Regions from separate parts of the Homo sapiens genome. Here region 2 is linked to region 1. The links come from fine-mapping of genetic effects on gene expression. A gene starts in region 1. The other region holds a variant in brackets. All regions are shown on one strand. Distances are from middle to middle.

What was found.
Region 2: its variant is fine-mapped to the expression of CAB39 in skeletal muscle (FUSION, PIP 0.95).

Annotation. Positions count from the first base shown.
Region 1 is chr2:230,707,152-230,716,189 of GRCh38, forward strand. CAB39 (calcium binding protein 39) reads left to right here and starts at 5,691. Exons shown (of 9, transcript NM_016289.4): 1 at 5,691-6,079. LOC124907996 (formin-like protein 16) reads right to left here and starts at 6,175. Exons shown (of 4, transcript XM_047446832.1): 1 at 4,928-6,175. The coding sequence starts at 6,175. The coding sequence ends at 5,417. RefSeq lists a silencer at 5,463-6,402.
Region 2 is chr2:230,659,956-230,668,993 of GRCh38, forward strand. No RefSeq gene overlaps it. Among named protein-coding and RNA genes, the nearest start is that of LINC01907, 36 kb to the right of the region's middle. RefSeq lists enhancers at 2,956-3,035, 3,586-3,775, 6,463-7,328, 7,279-7,573, 7,543-8,022 and 5 more. The variant A/T (reference allele first, on the strand shown) is at 4,341.

The DNA of each region.
Region 1 (9,038 bases):
CAGGGCTGCAGGATGTTTCCTCAGCTGATTTCTCTCTGAGTCCAGCCCCACAGCCCCTGTAGGCCTCCTTCTCGGCGTAACGGCTGGGCTTGGTTGGGATGGACTTTAAACGTGCTGACATTTTTCTTACATTTCATATTTTGTAGTTAAGTTTTCCATCTATCTGCCTATCTAGGTTCATGAGCAAGGTTAGTCTAGTTTTCTTTTTTGTGTGTTGCATTTATTGAGGTTTTGGTATCATGCCAATAATCAGAATAACATCAGTATCTGGCAGGATGCAGTGGCTCACGCCTGTAATCCCAGCACTTTGGGAGACCGAGGTGGGTGGATCACCTGAAGTCAGGAGTTCGAGATCAGCCTGGCCAACATGGTGAAGCCCCATCTCTACTAAAAATACAAAGATTAGCCTGGCGTGGTGGCAGGCGCCTGTAATTCCAGCTACTTGGGAGGCTCAGGGAGGACAATTGCTTGAACCCGACAGGCAGAGGTTGTAGTGAGCCGAGACTGCACCACTGCACTCCAGCCTGGGTGACACAGAGAGACTCCGTTTCAAACAAACAAACAAACAAACAAACAAAAAATCAGTATCTTCCTCCACCCCTTCCCATCTCAGCTTGTTAGAAATGCAGAATCAGGGGTCCACTCCAGACCACTAAAACCATTATCTACATTTCTTCAAGAGCCCCTGGAAATGCACATTATAAATTCACATAGTTCGAGAAGTTGCCCTAGGCCTTATCATTCCTGAAAACCACTCCTTCCATAATCTCGGGAGCAAGCGACCTGGCTCTCCAACCAGCATGTTCTTCCTTCCAGCTCACTCCCTTACCGTGCTGATTCCAACCATCCGTTGATCCTGCCACTTCTACATGGGCCTCTCTCCCCCCACTGCCCACAACCCTTCCTCATTCCCTCCTGGACAGGTGTGGATTTAACAGTCCACCATAATTATTACTTCCTTATTGTACCTTCACCTTCCTTTCCCCTGTTTCCCTCCATGGAATTATCTAGCAAAAACAACCCTGGTGGAATAGATTCCCCACCTTCCCAGCAAAATGTGGCTGCTAAAAAACATGGAATAAGCCTGCCAACTGGTCCTTTACACCTGCTCCTCTCCCCTGGAACTTCCAACACCTCCTCCCTCTCTGCACTGAGCGAATGAATGACTGTTCTTCCTGTTTCCCTGAGGAAATCGAAGCCCTCAGAAGGGACTGTCCACAAGTTCCAGGAACCTCGTCTACCTGGATCTCTGCCTCGTGCCCACATTCTGCCTGCCCTCTTGGAACCGTGACCTCACCTGCCTTGCTCCTATTCAAGGCCAGACCTTCCAGTGCACTCTGCGTCTTTCCCTTCTCACTCAATCAGGGACAGCTCTCCAGAAAACACCCCCCAACCCTCATCATCACATTTTCCCTTACGACTGAATCATTCCCACCAGCATTTAAGCACATTGGAAGAGCTCCCAATCTAAAAACAAAACAAAATGAAATAAAACGAAACATTTGCTCGGACCCCACATTCCCCTCCAGCCATCACCCCATTTCTCTGCTCCTCATTAGAAACAAAACTTCATGAAAATGTTGTCTAAACCAATGGTTTCTTTCCAGGGCCCCCATTCTTTCTAGGGACTCCCCTCCCCGCCCCTTCCTTCTCCTCCTCTCCTGCTTTTGAGACGGAGTTTTGCTCTTGTTGCCCAGGCTGGAGTGCAATGCCGCGATCTCGGCTCACGGCAACCTCCGCCTCCTGGGTTCAAGTGATTCTCCTGCCTCAGCCTCCCAAGTAGCTGGGATTACAGGCACATGCCACCATGCCCGGCTAATTTTGTATTTTTAGTAGAGATGGGGTTTCTCCATGTTGGTCAGGATGGTCTTGAACTCCCGACCTCAGGTGATCCACCCGCCTTGGCTTCTCAAAGTGCTGGGATTACAGGCGTGAGCTACCGTGCTCGGCTTTTTTTTTTTTTTTTTTTTTTTTTTGAGACAGAGTCTCACTCTTGTTGCCCAGGCTGGAGTGCAACGGCACAATCTCGGCTCACTGCAACTTCCAACTCCCAGGTTCAAGCGATTCTCCTGCCTCAGCCTCCCAAGTAGCTGGGATTATAGGCATGTGCCACCACGCCTGGCTAATTTTTTGTATTTAGTAGAGATCACCTGAGTGGATCACCTGAGATCTTCTTTCCTTCTCTTTCTTTTTTTTTTTTTTAACATAGTCTCCCTCTGTCACCCAGGCTGGACGGCAGTGGTGTGATCTCAGCTCACTGAAACCTCCATCTCCTGGGTTCAAGCAATTCTCCTGCCTCACTCTCCGGAATAGCTGGGATTACAGCCATGCAACACCACGCCCTGCTAATTTTTGTATTTTTGGTAGAGATGGGGTTTCACCATGTTGGCCAGACTAGTTTCGACCTCCTGGCCTCAAGTGATCCACCTGCCTCTGCCTCTCAAGGTGCCAGGATTATAGGCATGAGCCCCCTCACCTGGCCAGATTTTCCTGGATCTCTTCCTACCAAACTGGCTCCTCCCTCTCAGGGTTCTTTGCTGGTTCCTTACCATTCCCTGACCTGTCATTGTTGGGGGACTGGGCTTAGTAGTAACACTCACATCCTAAAGGATCTCACTGAATTCAGAGGTTTTACCTACTCTGAGAACCACCTAAATTCTGTCTGTGGCCCAGACTTCTCCTCTGAAGTCTTCTTTTTTTTTTTTTTTTTTTTTTTTTGAGCCGAGTCTCGCTCTGTCACCCAGACTGGAGTGCAGTGGCGCAATCTCAGCTCAATGCAACCTCTGCCTCCCAGGTTCAAGCAATTCTCCTGCCTCAGTCTCCAGAGTAGCTCGGACCACTGGCGCACGCCACCACACCCGGCTAATTTTTGTATTTTTATTAGAGACGGGGTTTCACCATGTTAGTCAGGCTGGTCTCCAACTCCTGACCACAGGTGATCCGCCTGCCTCAGCCTCCCAAAGTGCTAGGATTACAGGCGTGAGCCACCGCGCCAGGACTTCTCCTCTGAACTCTTAAGTCCAACTTCCAACTTGGGTGTCCAACAGGCAGCTCAAACTTTGTATGTCCCTAAGTAAATTTCCAAGTTCCTCCCTTCACATCTGTTTCTGCTTAAATTTTCCCCATATCACCAAATTGTATTTTCCAGTTGCTTGAGAAAAAAAAAAATTAGAAATCAGGAAAATCCTTTTAGCTTTACCCTTTATTTATTTATTTTTTTTCTTGAGTCAGGGTCTCACTCTGTGGCCCAGGCTGGAGTGACAGTGGCACAGTCACAGCTCACCGTAGCCCCGACTCTCCAGGCTTAAGTGATCCTCCCACCTCAGCCTCTGGAGTAGCTGGGACTACAGGCACATGCTACCACGCCTGGCTAATTTTTTTTTCTAGAGACAGGAGTCTCACTATGTTGCCCAGACTGGTCTCCAACTCCTGGCCTCAAGTGATCCTTCCTCCTCTGCCTCCCAAAGTGGTGGGATTACAAGCGTGAGCCACCTTTTATTATTATTATTATTATTGAGACTGAGTACTGCTCTATTGCCCAGGCTGGAGTGCAGTGGCACAATCTTGGCTCATTGCAATCTCCCCTTACTGCAACCTTTGCCTCCCGGGTTCAAGCGATTCTCCTGTCTCAGCCTCCCGAATAGCTGGGATTACAGGTGCCCGCCACCATGCCCAGCTAATTTTTGTGTTTTTAGTAGAGACAGGGTTTCACCATGTTGGGCATGGTGATCTCGAACTGACCTCAAATGATCCTCCCACCTTGGACTCCCAAAGTGTTGGGATTCCAGGCGTGAGCCACCTTTTAAACGTGTCTACAGGTGATCATTTTACTCTTCTACTGCCACCACCCTGGACAGAGCCTTATCTTTTTTTTTTTTTTTTTTTTTTTTTGAGATGGAGTCTCCCTCTATCGCCCAGGCTGGAGTGCAGTGGCGCGATTTCGGCTCACTGCAACCTCCGCCTCCCGGGTTCAAGCAATTCTCCAGCCTCAGCCTCCCAAGTAGCTGGGGTTATTTTTGTATTTGTAGTAGAGACGGGGTTTCAACATACTGGTCAGACTGGTCTCGAACTCCTGACCTCAGGTGATCCCCCTGCTTCGGCCTTCCAAAGTGCTGGGGTTACAGGTGCGAGCCACCACGCCCGGCCGGACAGTCTTATCTTTTGGCTGGCTGATTTCAACAGGCTTCTCGCTGGTCCCCCTGCTGAAACCCTCAGGGCTTTCAGTCTGGTCCTCATACCACAGCCACAGGGATCCTCCTGAAATGTCATTCCACGTCCTTTCTCTGCTCGCAACCCTTCAAATTGCTTCCCATCTCCTTGAGAGTAAAAACAGGAAGTCCTAACTTTGGTTGGTAGGGCCGCACTTCTTCCTCATCTCTTCCCCTATCTGGGGCCGCTTTCAAGCCAGCAGATTCTCGCCTCAGGGCCTTGGTCCTGCTATTCCCTCTGCCTTTCCATACAGAAAGCTCCCAGGCTCTCTCTCTCCAGGAAGCTGCTCCCTGAATGAACACTGTAAATAACAACACCCTGCTTTCTCTCCCCTCCTCACCCAGTGGTGTTTTTAACTGTCCAGTATTTGTTTTTTTGTTGTTGTTTTTTGTTTGTTTTGTTTTTGTTTTTTGGAGATAGTCTCGCTGCGTCGCCCAGGCTGGAGTGCAGTGGCGCGATCTCGGCTCACTGTAACCTCCGCCTCCCGGGTTCAAGCGATTCTCCTGCCTCAGCCTCCTAAGTACCTGGGAATACAGACGCCCGCCACCACGCCCGGCTAATTGTTTTTTGTATTTTTAGTAGAGATGGGGTTTCACGGTGTTGGCCAGGCTGGTCTTGAACTCCTGACCTCGTGATCCGCCCACCTCGGCCTCCCAAAGTGCTGGGATTACAGGCGTGAGCCACCGCGCCTGGCCCAATTGTCCAGTATTATACATACCTGTAGGTTTATTAGTCAATTATTTGTCAACTGTTTGTGCTAGGAGCATGGACTGTTTCGCTCACTGCCCCATCCCTGACGTACAGGAGGCGCTTAAAAAGTAGTTCAGTTACACATTAAAAACAAAGAAACAAAAATACACACATATGGCATTTGTATGTGCCAGGCTCCGTTGTCAGAGCTTTGCAATGCACTGTCCCGTTCATCCTCAGAAGCCCGTGGCTGGTACCACTATATTATTACACACTTTTTTTTTTAATGTGTGAGGAAATCCAGGCACAGGGACGTGAAACAGCCCATAGATAGCAAATGGTGGAGCAGGACTTAAATCCAGGTTGCTGATTTAAATAGGAATATTCCCATTAATCTGGAACGTTCTGGCACTTGTCCCCCTGGATGCTGTGTCCCCCTGGATGCTAAAATGAAGCGATCTGCTCCAAGAAAGTAAGAATCGGTCTGCACAAAGTGGGATCCCGGCCTCTCGCAGAATTAAGCTTGAAGAGTTGAGGAAGTGGTCGTTGAAAGTGGGCGTGCGATTCCCGCAGTAAGAGCGCTCAGGCGGAGGAGAAAGGGCTGAGCCCCGCCTTGGAAGCTGCGGCGGAGGAAGAGGAACTGCGGGGCTTGGCTTCTGCTTTTCTCTGCGGCCCCTCCCGCTCGGGCCTCGCGCCTACTTGCGGCGCCCTGAGTCCGCCGGCCGCTCGGGGGCGCCCGAGGCGGAAGGGGGCGTTGCGGCACCGCCCGACGTCGCGTCCTCGGCGGCTGCGCAGTGCGCACGTCAAAGCCGGGCTCGGGCCGCAAGCGGGGCGAGGGGTTCGGGGAGCGGCGCGGCCTGGGAGACACAGAGCCTTCAGGCGCCGGGGCGGGGGCACAGGCGAAGACTAAGGCGGCGCCGGGCCCCACAGCAGCAGCCGCAGCCCAAGCGAGCGCAGCAGCGCGGCGGCAGCCGCGGGAGCCCCTGGGCAGCCGTCCGCCCGCGCAGCCGCCGCCGCCGCGGGAGCCCGTCGCCGGGAGCAGGAGCGGGCGGAAGACAACGGAGGGGCCGAGCGTCCGAGCCACTCCGCGGGGACCGAACGAGCAGCCCGAAGCGGCGGCGGCCGAGGACGGGGACAGCGACGACGCGGAGGCAGAGAAGGGAACGCCCGGCCCAGCCCCGTGAGTGACCCCCGGCCGGCCCTGCTCGTGGTGCGGACGCCTGCCCGGCTTCCGCCTGCCCCGCTGGGCCCTCACCGGCCCCGGGGCTGCCTCCATTTTCCTGGGTGGCGGCGGCCCCGGCCCAGCTTGTCCCCGGAGCCCCCGGGAGCAGCCGGGCCCAGCCTGCCCTCTCCGCCCGGCTCGGCTCCGGTCCCTCGCTGAGACGCTCCCTTTGCCTTCGCCGGCGTGGGGCGCCCGGGGGCCTGCAGTCCAGGCGCTCCTGCCTCTCCCCCCGTGGTTCTCTGGCGGGGCTGGCGGCGCGTGGTGGTCCGGGCCGGAGTCGGGCGGGCGGGGAAGTGCGGGCCGGGTCAACTGTCACCGGCTGCACCCGGGCTTCAGCGCCTCGCTCCCGCCCCTGGTAAACTTCCTGTTGTCGGGAGGCAGATACCAGCTTTGTGACCAATTCAGGAAAATGCCTAACTGATTTCTGGTTAGGAATTGGGCGGTCGGAGCGTTCTGGAGTTCAATGGAACCACCCCAAGCGCAGACTGCGTGCAGGCGCCGTAGTCGGCCCGCACCGGAGGGATTCAAAGGTGAAGCGGGCCCCGGTCCCCTCCCCCGAGGAGCTTAGGCTCTGGTGTGAGAGATAAGACGAGAACACAAATAACTGCGATACCGGGAAGGAGGTGATAAGTCCTGTGAAAGAACGACGGAGTGCTAGAACGGCACCCGGAAAAACCGAACCGATCACTTCTGCCTCGCAGAAACCTGGAAGGCTTCCTGGGCGGGGGATGCTGAGCAGAGTCTTGAAGGCCTGATGGGATTTAGGAGAGGAGGATTGCAGAAGAGGTGTGTGGAAGGGGTAGCAAAAGCGAGAAGACAAAGCCTAGAAATCATGGATAATTCCGTTTGTTGGCATGGTGCAGGGGGCGGGGGGTATTGGGCTAAAGAGGTATTTTGGGGCCAGATCCTTGAATGCTGTAGAGGAGCTATTTGAGCAGCATTCTAAGAGAAACTTAGAGCTCATTTCTCAGTGACTCATGAGCCCGGAAATGTAGGCTAGGGGATATTAAAGGCGCTCTTGTGAAAGGAGAGAGGAGGAGGCCCAGTCAGGAGTTGACATTCTGTGCCTTGAATGTAATGCAGTTTCAGATCGATTTTGACAGCTTCCCAGATAATCAAGTAAATCCATGCCCAGGCTAAGCAAAGTACCTTTGCAGAAAGCTTCATTAGATATCAGGCTCTTAAGAGGTAATGGAAAGGTGTCTATAAAATAAGCTCATCTGCACACAGAAGGTGTTTCTATTTGTGCGTTCGCTACAGTGCATAAAAACTTCTTGCACTTTGTATTAGGCGTATGTACTTTGGAATTACTAAGCTAAACCTACATTCTTTGAGGTGGCATTTGTGTAAAATAACATAAATTGATGATTTTTAAAAAATGGTTAGTAATATTCTGCTGTAGAAAGCCAGACGTAGACCTTTTACAGAAAGGTAAAACTTTGTTTTTATATTTTATTTTATTATGAAATCTTTATAGTAGAGCCAGAAGTGAAAGTGTTTAGCTTTATTTTGTAGTTTGTTCAAATTGTTAGGAAGTAATTAGCAGCTGTATTCGAAATCTAGAATATACGATCTGTGAAAGCAGCTTAGGGCCTAAGTTTTGTAAGCTTGCACTTGTTTGCGTGTATGACAAGTGAATGCCACCTTTTTGCAGTTTAAAAATTTTCTGCTTTTCAAAATAATACATGATCTTTGTCAAAGCTTCCAAAATTCAGGGAGTGCTAGAAAATCTTTAAAACATTTTCTATAATCTTACCACTTAGATTTGGTTACTGCTAACATTTTTGCGTATTTTCTTTCCAGTCTTTTTCTGTGTATTTTTTCTTTGCATAATGAAATATATTGTATGCATATGTATACACACACACATCTCTTATTAAGCTTTTCTTGTCATTAAATATCTTCATATAAAAAATTTTTACTCAACAATGGAAGTCTTCTAAGCATGTTATGTTTTCCTGACAAGGTTGTATTATTTACCTCAGATGAAATGCAGTAGTTAGGCTTAATAACTACTAGTGTGGACAGAACTTTTTCTGAAAGTTTCTTGTTTGAAGTATGTTTCTTTCTCTGTAAGACTTGGATCCTCTTGCTTGTTGAATAAAGTTTTTCTTGGCAGGATGTGTGTTGTCATGAGGTGTGGAAGAGGAAGAAAGCACACAGATCTCTGCTATAGGAGTGAATGGACTTTTAAAGGGATGTTGTCAAAAGATTACTGTCATGGCTGGTATACCATCCCCCACAGACGGCGATGCAGTGTCCCTTCCCACTCCCCACTTCGCTCCTGAAAAATAGTCTCTACACTAGGGCCATCCATATAGGTTAACTATTTTTTGAACATGACATCACGAAGACTCAGGCTGGATATAAGCATAGAATATTTCATGAAATGGTTTGCTACTATAACAAATGGGTGGTATTTGCCTTTTTGGTTTTGTTTTGTTTTTTGAGACAGGTTCTCACTCGGTCGCTCAGGCCGGAGTGCAGTGGTGCGAACATGGCTCACTGCAACCTCAACCTCCTGGGCTCAAGCCATCCTCTCACCTCAGCCTCCTGTAGACGGGACCACAGGCTCGTACCATCACATCCGGCTAATTTTTGTATTTTTATAGAGACAGGGTCTTGCCATGTTTCCCAGGCTGGTCTTGAACTGCTGGGCTCAAGTAATCTCGCCTTGTCCTCCCAAAGTGCAGGGATTACAGGCGTGAGCCACCACGCTTGCCTGGATATCTGTTTTTTTATTTCAAGGCAGCTTACTTCCCTTCATTAGCATTTTCTACTTCAGGTTCTTGTACTAAGTCAGTTTTTTCCCATGTATTTTACATTCTAAGGTGTATTAATAAGATCTCTGTTTCTGTTTCATCACGTATGAAGTAAGATGCTGAGTAAGGCTGTATACGTTTCCTAAAGTTAATGT
Region 2 (9,038 bases), 47 kb before region 1:
CTCCGCTTCCCAGGTTCAAGCAATTCTCCTGCCTCAGCCACCCGAGTAGCTGCGATTACAGGCACGTGCCACTGTGCCCAGCTAATTTTTTTGTATTTTTAGCAGAGACAGGGTTTCACCATGTTGGTCAGACTGGTCTCGATCTTGTGACCTCGTGATCCACCCTCCTCGGCCTCCCAAAGTGCTGGGATTACAGGCGTGAGCCACCGCGCCTGGCCCACTTACTCTACTTCTGCACCCCCCACCCTGCACATAAGGAGGGTACATCAGACCCAGAGGATGGCAACCCCCCCAGACTCAGAGGCCACAGGGAAGGGCCTGCGCTGGCCCACCTTCACCTCGATGCTGACTCGCAGAGCTCCGGGAATGTGGACCAGCAGGGAAGGAAAAGGTTCCCAGATAGACTCCGGAAACAGAGCTCACATGACCCCCCTGGGACTCTCTCGTCCCCGCACTGTCCCTGCCAAGGAAAGGACAAGGCCTTGGGCCAGTCTTCTGCAGGAGGTGTCCTGGACAGGCAGTTCCCAACCCACGTGTACAGGCAGTGGCTTCAGATTTGTCTCTGGGCTGTGCTTGTTCCTCTAGGAAGGGCCCCAGCAATTCCAGCCCCAGGGAAATTTTCTCTCCTTCTTCTGGTGTGGATCAGCCAGGGCATTTCACAACCAGCTACAGATGACAAAGAACTGGTAACAGGGCCACCTCCCGTGCCCTGGTCTGGGTGTCCCGGTGAAACTGAATGAAATGAACAGCAGGTGGCCGGGGTCAAACACCAAGTTAAACAGAAGGGGACAATCTCAGCTCCCAGGCAGAGACCACGGGTGGGGGAGGGAGAGCGGGCAGGAGGTTACAGACCACGTGAATAAGAGTTCAGATCTTTGTGGTACTGGTTGGCAGTTTCCGTTCTTACACCCCAGCTTCCTTCCTGATTCTCTGCCCAGCACAAGGGGATTGGGGAACATGTCCAGCCAACTATAGCCAAAGGCAGCACAGGGCAAGGTATACAGTCAGTGCCAGTTAATGGTTAAGACAGCCAGCATATCAGGCATTGCAGTGAGCCGAGATTGCACCACTGTACTCCAGCCTGGGCAACAGAATGAGACTCCATCTCAAAAAAAAAAAAAAAAAAGAAATAGACAGCCAGCATAGGAGTCAGACAGGATCCCAACTCCACACTTGAACTCTCTAAGCCTCGGTTTCCTCATCTGTAAAATAGTGATAACATTGAAGACCATCTCACAGGGATGCCAAGAAAATTAAATGAGAAACTCTATGGAATGCACTTAGGACAGGGCCTGGCACATAGTAGGACCTCAATAAATATTAGCCATACTATCAACTTGACTGAGAATGGTAGTTGAAGAACCAGTGGGCTCCACACAATCTCATATTAGAGAATCTGACTCTCCAGGCAGGCGTGAGAGTCAGTGCATGATGATTAAATCCTTTGAGGCACACGGGGGAAATGTGTCCTGCCTAGGGCTGTCTTACTTCTCTTCCTCACCCCTGTTGGCCTCAGTATCTGGAACTGCACCATAGAGATGAGTCCCTTTGGGTAGTGCCAGGCAGCGACTCAGATCCCAGGGTTCCAAATAGAGACACAGGGGCACTGCTGTACTGGGGGCATGGAGGGCTATAGCATGGGCCGGCTTAGGGGTGTGGTTTGAGCACCCCAGTTCCCCATAGGCCTGATTCCCCACAGAGCTCAGATGTAGAAGGGCCTGGCAGATCGGGCAACCAAAGCTCCTTTCCCTAACCTCACAAGGTCCAGAACCCCAAGATTTAGACTTTCTTCCTTTCCCCAGCCCCCTTATCACCACTTCCTGGCACTCAGCTCCTGCATCTGAGAAATGAGTATGGTACCAGGGTTGTGGTTAGGCTCAAATGAGCAACCCATGCAAAATCCTTTGAACCGAGCTAGACATAGGTGTGGTATTAGTTTGATAGGGCTGCCATTACCTAGATCCACAGACCGGGTGCCTTAAGCAACAGAAGTATACTTCCTCATGATTCTGGAGGCTGGAAGTCTGAGATCCAGGTGTTGACAGGGTTGACTTCTAAGAGCTCTTTCCTTGGCTTGTAGACTGCTATCTTCTCCCTCTGTCTTCACATGGTCGGCCCTGCGTTTGTGTCCTAATCTCCTCTTTTTTTTTTTTTTTTTTTCTTTTGAAATGGAGTCTCACTCTGTCACCTGGGCTGGAGTACGGTGGTGTGATCTCGGCTCACTGCAACCTCCGCCTCCTGGGTTCAAGCGATTCTCCTGTCTCAACCTCCCGAGTAGCTGGGCCTACAGGTGTGTGCCACCACGCCCAGCTAATTTTTGTATTTTTAGTAGAGGCGGGGTTTCACCATGTTGGCCCGGATGGTCTCGATCTCCTGGCTTCGTGATCTGCCCACCTTAACCTCTCAAAGTGCTGGGATTACAGGCATGAGCCACCGCGCCCAGCCAATCTCCTCTTTTTATAAGGACATCAGTCATATTGAATCAGGGTCCATCCTAATGACCTCATTTTAACTTAATTATCTCTTTAAGACCTATCTCCAAATACAGTCACATTGTGAGGTACTGGGGCTAGGATTTCAACATAAGAATTTTAGGGGACACCCTAATGTCCCTAATGTCACCAAATAATGGTGGCAGAAAGGAGGTGTTTGTTGCACTGAACTAAATAGCAATGTTTCCTGAGCCCCTAATAGTTGGTGCTCAGCAAACATTACTATTTAATTCAGTACAACAAATACCTTCTTTCTGCCAGCGTTATTCTAGGCCCTTTGCTTATGAGCAAAGCAGCCCAATTCTTTGTCCCTGTGGGGTTTACATTTTGGGGGTAGAGGGAGGGGCAAGAGACATCATATGTCAGACATACTAAAAAGTAAGTTATATAGTGTGCTAAAAGATGGTACGTTCTATACAAATAAATAAATAAATAACAGAGTAGAGTAAGGGGAATCTGGAGCGAGGGCCAGCATTTTGAACAGGGTAGTCAGAGCAGGCCTCATCGAGGCAACATTTGGCAAAGCCTTCAAGGAGATGCTCTATGGTCTATTATGGTTCTTCCTAGGGAATCGTATCAGAATTGTTGGGCTTTGAACTCCCATTTCCCTGCCCACTTCCACCCACGCTGATATCAGAGCAGAGACAGTGCCTCTGAGACACAAGATCTGACACTGACATTTGACTCTGCTCTTTATTAGCAGAGCCATGCCGGGCAAGTTACTCAACCTCTCTGAGCCTGTGCCCCACACACTGTACTCCTGCGGGCCATCACCTCTGTGCAGTGGGGTCAGGGTAGAGGCATGGCCCAAGGTCAGCCACCCATGGGCTGGGCTGCCCTAGGCTAGCTGGGGTGGGTGCTGGGCTTTCAGAAGTAGCTACCAGATTTTGCATGAGATGACCTGGGTATCAATTAGGACTGTGTTCACCTGCATGTAACTAAAAACTAGAGTAACAGGGATTTTTTTTTTTTTTTTTTTTTTTTTTTTTTTTTTTTGTCTCATACAAAAAAGGAAGTTTAGAGTTGGCAGTCAAGGGCTGGTACCATCGCTTAGGGGTCAGCCAACATCAGGACTCCTCCTGTTCTCCTCCACCACACTTAGCATCTGGCTTTTCCCCTCATGGTTGAATATGGCTGCTGCACCTCCAGGCGTCCAAACTGTCTTCCAAAAAGTTAGAAGGAGAAAACGATGAAGTCAAAGATCAAAGAGAAAGGGCTAAAGAGCATGCCAGTTGAATCTGTTTCTTTTTAAATATCCACCCACCAGTCAGGCATGGTGGCTCATGCCTATAATCCCAGGACTTTGGGAGACCGAGGTGGGTGGATCATCTGATGTCAGGAGTTTGAGACCAACCTGACCAACGTGGTAAAACCCCATCTCTACTAAAAAGAGAAAAAATTAGCTGGGTGTGGTGGCGGGGGCCTGTAATCCCAGCTACTCGGGAGGCTGAGGCAGGAGAATCACTTGAATCCACGAGGCAGAGATTGCAGTAAGCTGAGATCGCGCCATTGCACTCCAGCCTGGGCAACAAGAGTGAAACTCCAGCTCAAAAAATAAAACAAAAAAAAAAGTAAATTTCCACCCACTGACTCCTGCTCTTATTCCACTGGGCAGAACTAGGTCAACATGACCACCACTACATACAAAGGATCCAAGGAAGTAGTTGAGCTGGACACCTTGCCACCCCCCAAAGGCAGGATGCTGTTAGTAAGGAAGAAGGGGAAACTAGATACTGGGTAGGTGCCCAGCATATGCTCTCAGCTGAGCTCAAGTGCAGTGAGGGTGGGCGGTGCATCACAGCCCTGGCCCAGGGCCACCCCCAGGACTGGGAGGAGAGCCCAGAGCTG[A/T]GAGGGGCAGAGCCTGGGCTGCAGGTCTCTGAGTCTGCATGGTATGGGCAGTCTAGTGGTGGGAAGATTTTCTCCCTCCCCCTCCCCACTCACTTATGTGCACCGGCATCCACGCAGCCTCCACTTTCACAGGCTGAGGTGCTGTCTCATTTCTCTCACCCTCTGCCACACCACCCCTTGGGTCTCCCTGACATTGCGCTGCTTTCTCAGGCCTTGGCTGGAGCACAGTGCAGAGGGGGTGGGGATGGGGGAGCACTCCTCATCGCTGCTTTTCAGAGGATCCCCCTCCACTCTTCAAAAGAAAGGATGGGAAGTGGGGTGTGGGGCTGTGTGCTAAGGAAGGCTCTCCTTCCAGCTTCTACTGCCTGCCCCCCACCTCAGGATCAGAAGTGGGGGGCTCCAAGGGCCCCTCATTCCAGAGCCCATGGGCTAAAGCAAGTAAAGATGAGTGAGGATTAAAGCAAAAGGCAAACATGAGGACACAGAGCCTGCCCTCCCTGTCGCAGCAACCTGGTGAGGATGAACTCAGAGGCTGGCCCTAGTGGTGGAAAGTTAAGGAAAGACTGCCAGAAGATGAATGCCAAAAACCTAGGGCTCCCCTTCTTCCTCCCCATATCCAAGCCCTCATCCTCCTTAGACATACATCCAGAGTCTGACTGCTCCTCCCGCCTCCACAGCCACCACCCTGGTCCATCCTTTGTCCCGACTCACGTAGATCATGACATCTCTCTCCTTCCTGCACGTCCAGCCGCCCCAACCACCCTCATCACACAGCCAGACCAGCCCTCTCGTGTTTCCCAAATCTCCATGATGGCTCACAGGTTCCCATGGATTCCTGTGGACTCCCAGGATCACTTCAGCCACAGGGAAGTGTGCTCCTGACTCAGGGCCTTTTCATTTCTGGTACCTTCTGCCTCGGAGGCCCTTCCCCCTGGAGCCCTGGGCTGACTCCCTTACCCTTCAGACTTTCACTAGCATCTACCAGAGCCTTCCTCTGACCTCCCTGTGTTAATGACAACAGCTCTCCACCCTGCTGCATACCCTAACATGCTGAGCAGCTTTCTTTTCTCCACACCACGTGTTGCCACCAGACAAAAGTGCTACAAGCTCCTGGAGGGAGGGACCAGGTCTATAGTTCACTGCCATATCCACAGTCCCTCATGTACTCCCTCAGTGCTTGCTGAGTGAGTGAGTGAATGAATGAATGAGCGAACCACAAGAATATTATTTGACCTCAAGAACACCGCAGGAACTGGCAGGGGGACCATGATCTTCCTGAACGCTCTGCATGAGATGACTTGGCAGATCCCACGGACTTGCCTTCTTAAAACCACCCTGGAGGCCGGGCACGGTGGCTCATGCCTGTAATCCTAGCACTTTGGGAGGCCGAGGTGGGCTGATCACGTGAAGTCAGGAGTTCAAAACCAGCCTGGCCAACATGGTGAAACCCCATCTCTACTAAAAATACAAAAAAAAATTTGCCTGCATGGTAGCGGGTGCCTGTAATCCCAGCTACTTGGGAGGCTGAGGAAGGAGAATTGCTTGAACCCTGGAGGCAGAGGTTGCAGTGAGCCAAGATTGCACCACTGCACTCCAGCCTGGGTGACAGAATGAGACTCCATCTCAAAAAAAAAAAAAAAAAAAAAAACCCACCCTGGAAACAGGGAGAGAATCAGAGCGAAAGCTTCCAGTTCAAACGCAGGTTGAGAATGAGGTTTGCAGAGCCAGCGGGCAGTGAGTGCTGACCGAGAAGACCCATGGCGGCCCACTGCAGTGGGGGCGGCGGCAGTGTGACCTTGTTGAAACTAGCCGCTCCAGTGACCCAAGGCTGGGGGAGATTTGGCTCTGCTACTTTCCAGCACTGTGAGCTTGGGAGCCTTACCTGCTCCGAGCTTCAGTTTCCTTACTTGTATAATGGGGATTAAATAACACACTTTTTTTTTTTTTGAGATGGAGTCTCACTCTGTTGCCCAGGCTGGAGTGCAGTGGCACTATCTTGGCACTATCTGCAACCTCCGACTCCCGGGTTCAAGCAATTCCCCCGCCTCAGCCTGCCCAGTAGCTAAGATTACAGACACACGCCACTACGCCCAGCTAATTTTTGCATTTTGGGTAGAGACGGGGTTTCACCATGTTGGCCAGGCTGGTCTCGAACTCCTGACCTCAAGTGATCCACCCACCTCGGCCTCCCAAAGTGCTGGAATTACAGGTGTGAGCAACCACGCCCAGCCCTAACACACTTTCTTTATTGCCCTTGAATCAACCGCATTCCAAGGCCAACGTCATTTGGAAAGGTTGACCTAGATTTCCTTTTCCATCTCCACTGGGACCTCCCCTTTCACCCACCGGAACCCAGGAGGCTCTGATGCCTTGAACACACAGAAGGGCTCCTAATCTTTTGTACATCAAAGTCGCCCCAGCTTCTTTGCTGCCCAAGCTCACTGGTGTGGTTTCCTAATGTCCCCGACAGTTTGGGAGATCTCTGCCAAGGCTGGCCACCTGGTACCAGCCCAGGTGCCCCACCTGTCTCCCACCCCCAGGTCTCTGGTCACCTCCTGGATACTGTGAGTACTGGAGAACTTGCTGCTTGGGGACACCAGCACTCTCTCCCCTGAGGGCTGGGGCATATGCTCTCCAGACCCACCTTTCTCCTTCCCTCTCAGGACCCCTGGAGTGATCTCATCAACATCTGGCTTAACTCATCAGGGGATTTTCTGCAAGTGAGAAGGCTAATGCCTCTGGGGCCAGGCAGGCCTGGTGAATGTATGACAAAACTGCAGGGCATGGTAGGAGCGTGTACTGGTTTTCTAGGGCGCCGTAATGAAGTACACACAAACTGGGTGGCTTAGAACAATGGAACTGTGTCGACTCACAGGTCTGGAAGCCAGAAGCCTGAAATCGAGGTGTTAGCAGCACCATGCTCCCTCCAAAAGCACTGGGAAGGATCCATTCCAGGCCTCTCCCTGAGTTTCTGGGGGTTGCTGGCCGTTTTTGGCATTCCTTGGCTTGGAGACACGTCACCCAGTCTCTGCCTTCAGCATGTGGTATCTTCCCTGTGTGTGTCTGTGTTCCCATTTCCCCTTTTTCGAGGACAGAAGTCAGATCAGGGGCCCACCCTACTCCAGTATGACCTCATCTTAACTCATTACATCTGCAATGACCCTCTTTCCAAATAAGGTCACATTCTGAGATACTGGCAGTTAGAACTTCAACATGCATATTTGAAGAGGGTGCAATTTAGCCCCTAACAGGGCTGACGAGCCCTAGAGGGTGAGCAAGTCCACTCCAGTTTACTGTTGCCCTGCAGGGCTCTGGGAGCCTGTCCAGGGTTTCCTGGGACAAGGTACTTTCTGTGCCTAAACTGGGTGAGTCCCAGGAAGCCAGCTTGGTTAGTCACCTCAAATGGGGCCCTATCTTCTTATGTTTCAAGAGAAGTCAGAAACTCTGACTTCACGTGAAATCTCCCAGTTTTTGAATGGGCATCTAATTTGACAAATTTTAAAATCCTGGGCCCCATCTGAGGGTGTCTAGCCTGCGAGTGGCCAGTGGTCACCCATTGCCTAGCATGGCAGGGCAAATTGTAAGACTCCAAAAACTGCAAATAACAGCAACTGTGGCCATGAGCTCAGGCTGGGCAACTTGTTCTGGGGCCCTGCATCAGCCCCATCTCTTTGGAAGCCTTCCTGGGCCCCTACTACCCATGCTCAGCAATGCTTCTGGCTCCAGAAACTTCCAGCACTGTTTCAGATAGGGGGACTGGCATTTGCAAACTGTCTTGGAGTTGGTGACCCAGAAGGAGGGACCCCAGACTAGAGGAAGATGAGAAGGCAGAGAGTACCAGACAGTGCCATCTAGGGAGAAGAAACAAGTCATGAATATCTGATGTAGGGATGGGACGGACACTAAGTGGGAAAGGCCACCCTGCTGCCCAGCCCCCACCACCGCCAGCACCACCAGGCTGGCCATCTCTTTCCCACCTTCCCCACCACCATGCACGTGGTGCCATGCACCGCTGCTCCTCACCCACTCAGACCAGCTCCAGCACCTTTGGAGGTGAGATTAGCTTCTCACACAACTTCTAAGTCTTGATCATAGCACATGCTCTGCGGTTTTGCTGATGGTGACTAACGGAGGGAATTTCAGGCTAGATCAGAAAGGAAGGTGGAACAGGGTAAAGTGGGTGAGGATGAGGCTTTCTGGTTGCTCCTCCCCAGTGTCCAGGAAGTTGCCCATCCAAGCCTCTTTCCCCTGGTGGGGCTTGCCGTGCTGTGTCTCTGGTTTGCTGGCCTGGGCAGTGCCACACTGCCAGGCTTTGCAGATCTGGAAGGGGAAGGAACAAGCCAAAGAGGAAGTGGCATCAAGAAGAAGATGGGAAGGGCAGTCTCCCCCTTCCCTCTTGCCAGGCCTGCAGAATTGGGGAACCCGTATAAAAGACAACATCCCTGCTGGGAGCTGCACCCTCTGCCCGGCCCGGCCCCAGGTGCCCTGATCTGCCTGCCACGACCTGGGCAAAGCATGCTGTTCCTGCACATACTCGGGCTTTCTGAAACCTGAGAAGGCAAGGGGGGTGAGGGAGAGTCCCACACAGCCCAGGCCCAGCTGGTCAGGCTAATTTTAGGTTTTTCTCAGCCTGACTGAGGCCTACTAATCTCCACCATGCCAGAGAATGCACATGGAGCAGAGGCTGTCTTTACTCAT